Homo sapiens: one gene and its partner. The protein of the gene in region 2 interacts with the protein of the main gene of each other region in a pairwise test. Each region holds a gene or a part of one and is shown on either strand. Other genes may lie near its edges.

The links. The genes of interacting proteins can lie anywhere in the genome.
Region 1: the proteins of FXR1 (region 2) and SYNGAP1 interact in binary tests that used the Homo sapiens proteins (3 or more experiments, as listed by UniProt).

The regions. Positions count from the first base shown.
Region 1 is NC_000006.12:33,422,915-33,426,664, forward strand, and holds part of SYNGAP1 (ras/Rap GTPase-activating protein SynGAP), read left to right. Parts: intron 1-562; coding exon 563-684; intron 685-2,883; coding exon 2,884-2,989; intron 2,990-3,750. UniProt on the Homo sapiens protein: Major constituent of the PSD essential for postsynaptic signaling. Inhibitory regulator of the Ras-cAMP pathway.
Region 2 is NC_000003.12:180,911,006-180,914,755, reverse strand, and holds the start of FXR1 (RNA-binding protein FXR1), read right to left. Parts: upstream 2,087-3,750; 5' UTR 2,071-2,086; coding exon 2,020-2,070; intron 105-2,019; exon of another isoform or gene 1-104. UniProt on the Homo sapiens protein: mRNA-binding protein that acts as a regulator of mRNAs translation and/or stability, and which is required for various processes, such as neurogenesis, muscle development and spermatogenesis.

The sequences.
Region 1 (3,750 bases), on a different chromosome or scaffold from region 2:
TTCTTTTCTAGATATTTAGCCCTCAGAATCTCATGATCCCAATGTTCCTACACACACACCCCATCCTTCTTTCCCACAGCCATGTAGCTTTCCTCATACTCTTTTATAGAGGGGTGGTGCCACCTTCCAAGTCCTTGTCTTCTGCAGCTATTTGGATGCCTTCCTCTACCCAGATATCTGACACCAACTTCTCTGTTTTTCTCCTGCCAATTTTGCGGCACCTCTACCTTATTTTCCTGAAGTAGATGGAGAGCTCCTTCATCTTTCTCTGCCCCCAAACGTGTACCTTCTCTGTCATATAATTCCCATCCCTGAACCTCTGCATTTCTTCCCCCAAGTCTCCAGAGCCTTCTGTGATGTGATCCTCTCCTCTTTTCCCCTTTGTATAAATGCTTGTCTTGTGTTCCTTTAGAGTTGCCAGGTGTCTCACTTTCAACTGTGATCTCCTGAAGGCCGGTAGGGTCCCCTTCTCACTTTGTGGACTCTCTTCTTGCCATTTTAGGCCTCTGCTTCCAAATGCATAGAGCCTCCCTTACTGTTTCTGTGTGTCTCTGTCCTCCAGATGTACGGGGACCCTCTATGCACCGAACCCAATACGTTCATTCCCCGTATGATCGTCCTGGTTGGAACCCTCGGTTCTGCATCATCTCGGGGAACCAGCTGCTCATGCTGGATGAGGATGAGGTGAGTGTGGTGAGAAGGCTGGGAAAACGCATGTGGGAGAATGGGGAGAGTCCTCATTAGTGAAGGGGAGAGAGACACAAAGAAGGCAGACAAAGAAGAAACATTTGCAAATGGCAGGAGGGTGGCCATTGAGACTTGGGTTGGAGTGTGACAAGAGGGGTAGTCATTCTCTCATCTTGGGCAGGGAGTCTTTGAGGGTTATGAGCTGTGTTGGGGAGGAGATGTGGTTCTGAAGATTTCGGGGGTGGGGAGGCTCCTGTTTTCACACTGTCCATATTGTAGGATAGGTTAGAATGGGGAAGGGGAACTGAAGGGTTTGGAGAAGGGGTGAAGACATGGAAGGCCCTCCCAACCAAAGCAATCCTCAGGACCCCTCTCTGCTTTGCCCACTGAGCAAGACTCCCAGTCCTTTCTCCATCAGGGGGCAGAGTGCAAGAAGAGAAATTGCAGGACGCAGAGAAAAGGCAGGGGATAGAGGAGGTTTTAGGTAGCTGGAGGATACTGGGAAAGAAGACTGAGGTCAGTGGATCTTGGCATGATGGGGTGAAGACTGGGAGAGTGATTGAGATCAAGGTTTAGAGAGACACTGAGAGGGCTTCTGCAAGGGAGTGGTTGGACATCAGGAAGGAATATAAGGGAGGGGAACTGGGAGTATGTGGAGTTATCTAAAGGAGTACAAGTGGAGTAGGGGCAGGGACTAGCCAGAGTAAAGGAGATGAAACGGACAGAGGCCTCTTATGGGAGGTGGTGGCCAGGTATGGAGATCTGAGAGCCAGGGAAGTGTGGGTTCTGATTTGGGAGCTGGGTCAGCAGGAGTGTCCATTGGAGGAAATAGAGGATAAAAACTGGAATGGTGCCCCACAAGTGTGAGTCAGGGAATGGGGGTGATTTGGGGGACAAGCTTTAAAAAATGGTAGGGTAGCCTGGAAAACCAAACGTGGTGAGAGATGGACCCTGAAAGTTATTGGGAATGGTGTGATGAGGAAGGGTTAGAATTTGAGTCAGGGCTAACTAGAGTGTCAAGGGACCTATGGGGGCAGGTGAGAGTGTGGAGAGATGGCTGGGTAGACAGCTTCCAGGCCACAGAGTAAAGTAGAGGTGTTAAGGAGAGGATATGGTGACTTTGAAAGGAGAGGTGGCTTGGGGAGTCTAAGTTTTGGACACCATTGGGAGACATTTGAGTGACTGTGGTCAAACCCCTAGATCAAGGTTTGGAGTCTGTAGGAGAAATGGGGGAAACTGGAACCCAGAGTGGGGACTGTTATAGGGATGAAGAGGGAAGACAATGGATTGGGGTAATGAAGGAATGACAGAGATAGGGACAGACTGAAGGGACCAGTGGCCAGCAAGTTGAGGGGCAATAGGAATGGCCGGTCTGGAGCAGGAAGGGCGTGTGTGTGGGAGGAGGAGTAGATAGAATTGGGAAAATGAGCAGCCTGAACAGACGCAGGGAGTTGGAATTGGATGGGTGGTGGAACTGGGGCTGGGGGATAGTGAGGGGTCTGTTCCTGTGGCTCTTTGTAGAGGTGGAGGAGACTGCAGGGGTGGAGGTGTATGGAGGTAGGGATGGAGGTGGACAGGGGGAGCTGGGTGTGAAGCTTAGGGAAAGGTGATGGCTGAGGGGAAGAAGGGAACTGAGAGATGCTGGGTCGGGTGATGGAAGGAGATGAAAGGTGGGGGAAGGTGACCAGGCCCTCTGGCGGGAGGGGAGGTTGGGTCCCAGTCTGGCCGCAAGCCGGGCCGTGGGAGGGAGACAAGCTGTGGATCCTGATTATAAATGCAGCTTCTGCTACCCCCGTGACAGGCTCGGAGGGAGAGAAGGGGGTAAGGGAGGTGGGAGGTTGGGAGGAAAGCAGGGAGAATGGAGGAACTGAAGGTCAAGGGAAAACTGGATTCAGGAAGTAGCTAACTTCTGAGGAGTTGCAGAAGAGCTGAGTAGGGTTTGGGAGAATTCTCCGGAAGGTGTTTCAAGACAAATGGAGGGAGAAAAGAGGGTGGGACGGCAAAGAATGAGAGAGAGAGACTGGGGGAGAGAAGGGAGAGATCCAGTCACCAAGTGTGGAGGGGCCGGGGCAGAAAAAGTGGGCAGGCTTAGGGGGAAAAGGAGGCCCGCCCTTCCTGGGAGGAGGCGGAGGGGGGAAGAGGGAGGGGAGGGGCGGCGTGGGCCAGGGAGGTCTGACACACCCCCACCTCCCCTAGATACACCCCCTACTGATCCGGGACCGGAGGAGCGAGTCCAGTCGCAACAAACTGCTGAGACGCACAGTCTCCGTGCCGGTGGAGGGGCGGCCCCACGGCGAGCATGGTACGGCGGCCGAGCAGGCTCTCATGACCCGGACAGGCGCGGGGAGAGGGCTGAAGATGGACCGGGCTGGCGGGGCGGGGGCGTCGGGGAGCGGCGGGAGCTGGCCGGGGGCGGGAGAAGGCGGAGACAAAGTCTTGCTTCCCGAGGGGAGATGGCGCCCTCCTCTGGAAGGTGGAGCGGGACAGGGGCTGTGGGTGAGAGGCCCCTGTGGGTCCTCGCTCGGCTTCGCTCCCTTTCTCCTCTCCAGCAGTGAAGTTTGACTATTTTCCTGGTGCTTGTAAAAATAGTCTCCTTAGATCTTTAGCTTCCAGTCCGTGTGTTCCTGCCCCTGCCCCTCCCAGCCCCTGGTCTGGGATCTTGGAAAGAATGACCTAGTTCCTGCCCTCCCCCCAGACCTCTTCCCCACCCCTATGCTCCTGATTCTTCTTCCGGACCTTCAGTCCTTGAGGTCTCCTTTTATTACCCCCTGTTTTCTCCTCTCATCAGCTGCTTCTATTTTCTGCAATTGTATCACCCTTTCTCTTTCCTCCCTGATTTCTCTTATTTTCTGTACCCCTCTTGATTACCCCGTCCCTCCCCTCTGCTCCCGGCGAAAGTCCATCAGACTCCCATCTCATCTCCTTTCTGTCTGTAGAGCTATCTGCGCGGTCTGTCTCTCCAACTCTCTCCCTCTCTCCATCTGTCTCTTCCCCTCCCTCCCCCTTTCTGCCCCCCCAACCCCCTCTTTAGTCATTTAAAAAAAGATTTTTGTCTTCCTGAGA
Region 2 (3,750 bases):
CAAAGTCTAAGTAGAAACAAGCAGTAGATTGTAGATATGTATAGAGATCAATTATAAATACTTCAGAGTTCCAAAATGGGGACATTTGATTCATTGTGAATTGACTGGAAAAAAAAAATACCGTGAGAAACCAAAGTAAGACTGCAAACAATCTTTACTAAAATTACCTTCACCTTATTAAAAAAAGGAAAAAATATCTTGCATAGCAGGCTATTGACAAATATACTTTGCTAAAAATAGTTGTCTACCACATGCATGATGCAGAACCATGAAATAAAGCAAAATAATCACTTTATTTTTTCCAATATGCAAGAAAAAATGCATACCTCCCTTATACAAGAACTACAGGGCCAAATAGTGAGAATTTAAAACTTTTCGGGAAAGGGGTGGGGGGTGATGCAAAACGACTTATCTACAATTGATAGGAAAAACATAGATAAGTCTATTCTTTTCGCCGTCTTACCCAGCGAACTGTATCTGCAGTAGTCCAGGGAAAGCAACCACCAGGTTTCAATAACAACAAAAGTCAATTAACTATGTACTCAAATTTCACCTAGGTCATTGGTCTGACATCAAGTCTTAAACCGAGAACGTCAATGTTAACTACTCACGCATTAACATAAAGTCTCATTTCCAACAGGCACTGTTCCTACTTTAAGTTTACCACCTAAGGAGATTTAAACTTGCAAAAAGCTTAGGGGGATCCTTTATACGCTGTGATTCCCCATTATGCTGGTACCACGTGACAGTTAAACCAAATCCACAGAGCTAATCAGTAAACTAAGAAAAGAAAATCAAAATGCTGAAAATAGAAAATCGTGGCCAAATAAAATAAAAACCCATAGGATAAAAGGTACGCTGAAATGAAAACCTGTGAGAATTCACTTTGCATACGCACAATACTCATGTATTAGAAGAAGGCCCTTCATAAAAATAGCCAAGACTCTCAAACATTTGAGATGCTGGCTTAGTGAGATTGACTGACAGACAACAGCTGGGGAGATTCTGTATTGATCTTCTAACAACCTGGCGTATTTCGGGAAAATAAGGAGAAAAGAACGCTATAGTGGCAAAAAATAAACTATTAGGATTTCATTTTCAGATATGTGAACGCTGAATGCCCCACCAAATTCCTCTACTCTATTCCTCTTACGTTTTTCAGCCCCGATTCCATAGTAATGGATGTCCTTCCTCCCAAGCAAACAAACAAAAAACCTCGTGGGAGAAAAAACAAAACAAAACAAAACCTCCCTCCAAAAACAGGGGCAGTGATATAAAGAAATTAGTCACCTCTCCACCTATCTCCCTGATCCATTTCGCATTTTAAATCTTACTTTAAAGCTCACAACTCTCCTTTTCTTCCGTAATAGAGGGGCTAAGGCGCCGCCCAATTTCCCAGGCCGCAAAAATATTCCAACCCGCCACAATTCAAGGTTTTCTGCTTTTCTGTATTTGATCCTAACCCTCAATCCGGTACCCCCATTCTCCTCAGACACTAAAGATTTGTTGGCCCAAAACTCAAATACAAGGGTGAATTCCAAAGATTCCGCGATACACCCGCCCCAAGGGGTGGGGAGGGGTCGGAGGAGCGGGCTGAGGAGCTCCCGCCCGGCCCAGTTCGAGGGGCGGGGGAGCGGGTGAGACCACACAATCCCACCGCCTCCTTTCACGACTCCCCCACCTCCCAGAGCTCGGGCCTGCTCCGAAGGAGCTCCCGCCGCCCAGCAGCCACTCAGTTGCTTCCCACCGGCCCGCCAAGAACCGCACTAGCAACCAAGAGGGTTCATAACTAGGAAAATGCAAGAGGTGTCCGACGTGTTGTTTCAAAACATAACGGAGCCCCGGCCCCCGAGACCGTTAAACCGCGGGTGGAGGGGGGAGAAGCAAGGAATCCAGCGGCCTCGAGCTTTGGCCTGGCTGCCTTTCCGACCCCAAACCTCACTCTCTGGGACCACCAACCCTCCCTCAAACGCGCTCCAGCACCCAGAACACTCGACAAAGTGGCAAAACGGTCAGTACCTTGTAGAAAGCCCCGTTAGAGCCGCGAACCTCCACCGTCAGCTCCGCCATGTTGGAACCGCAAAGGCCGCTGGGAAGAGATTCTAGAAACTTTCCAACCAGAGGGGAGGAGGGGGGAGGGGCGAGAAGGAGGCGGGGAAAGGGGAGGGGAAAACAGGGCTGGGATTGGGATCCCCCGCCCTTCACCCCTGGGGTCTCAACGTGCCGCCCCGACTCTCCAGGTGGGATCCCTGCGCACCCTGCATCACCGGCTTTGGGCTCCGCCTGCCGCCGTCTACGTCGGATTTGCCTCCAGACACAATCGCCCGACCTTTGTTGACCCGCCCCTAGGTCTCCGCCCCACAGTGCCCGCAGTTCGCACCGCGGCGGCCGAGTAGTGCCTCCAGCTGCCACAGAATGAACTGCCCAGGCACAGCCTGCCCGGCGCATCGGCATTCCCCTGAGCTCCGGCATCCTGACCTTAAACTTCTGGAAGTGCTGGCTGCCCTGGAATGGCTTTCTCACCCACTTTTTGGGCTCCAGTTGCCCTGGGGAAGAGGGATGCCTACAAAATAGACATACTGTTGTGCCCCAAGTTATTTCGCCCCGCTCTTTTTTTAAAAAAAGTTGGGCCTTCTCTTCACTCAAATTCCACAGTTCCACACCCCCTCAAACAATTTGGCCTAGCCCTCTCCCCACCTGTTACCACTTTAGCTCTTTAAAAGTCAAACTGAGTATTTTCAGGGCAAGTAATTGTGTTCACACCCTAGAACAGAGTTTAGGTGAATTCGCCTTATTAAAAGTAGTCAGACAAACTTAATAGAGCAGGAGACCACGTTTTCCTCTGTTAAATGCATGCAAATTTCCGCAAATAGGATCAAAGCAGAACCATCTCCAGTTTTGTAAGCATAACAAATACTTTGGGTATGGATTTTAACAACTTAATACTGAAGCTCCTTCCCTAAGCAAGGGCTTTGGAAAATAATACTATAAGTGCTCCTTGTTATACTTACATTATTACCGTTTTCGCAGAAAAACTTAAGAAAGGATACTTTGCTAACATTCTATACTTCCCATGAAACGCCCACTGACCCAGTTTTTCAGATTCTAAAAAAATAAAATGTACACAACATTTTATGAGCACGTCTGCATCTCTGAAGATTCTGGGAAAAAATGAGGGCTGTGAAAGTGCTCACTGTTGTTATGTACAGGATATTCTATTTATTTATTTATTTAGAGACAGGGTCTCACTCTGTTACCCAAGATGGAGTGCAGTGGCGTGATTACGTGGCAGCCTGGACTTCCCAGGCTCAGGTGATGCTGCCACCTCAGCCTCCCGAGTAGCTAGGACTACAATATTTATTTTATTTTATTTTATTTTATTTATTATTATTTTTTTAGACAATCTCGCTCTATCGCCCAGGCTGGAGTGCAGTGATGAGATCTCAGCTCACTGCAACCTCCGCCTGCTGGTTCAAGTGATTCTCCTGCCTCAGCCTCCGGAGTAGTTGGGATTACAGGCGCGCACCACCACACCCAGATAATCTTTTTGTGTTTTTAGTAGAGATGGGGTTTCACCATGTTGGCCAGGCTGGTCTGGAACTCCTGACCTCATGATCTGCCTGCCTCGGGATTGCAGGCATGAGCCACCGTGCCCAGCCTATGTATTCACTCCCGGCCTATTTTTTTTTTTTTTTTTAAGACAGGATCTCTATCGCCAAGGCTGAAGTGCAGTGGCACAATCATAGCTCA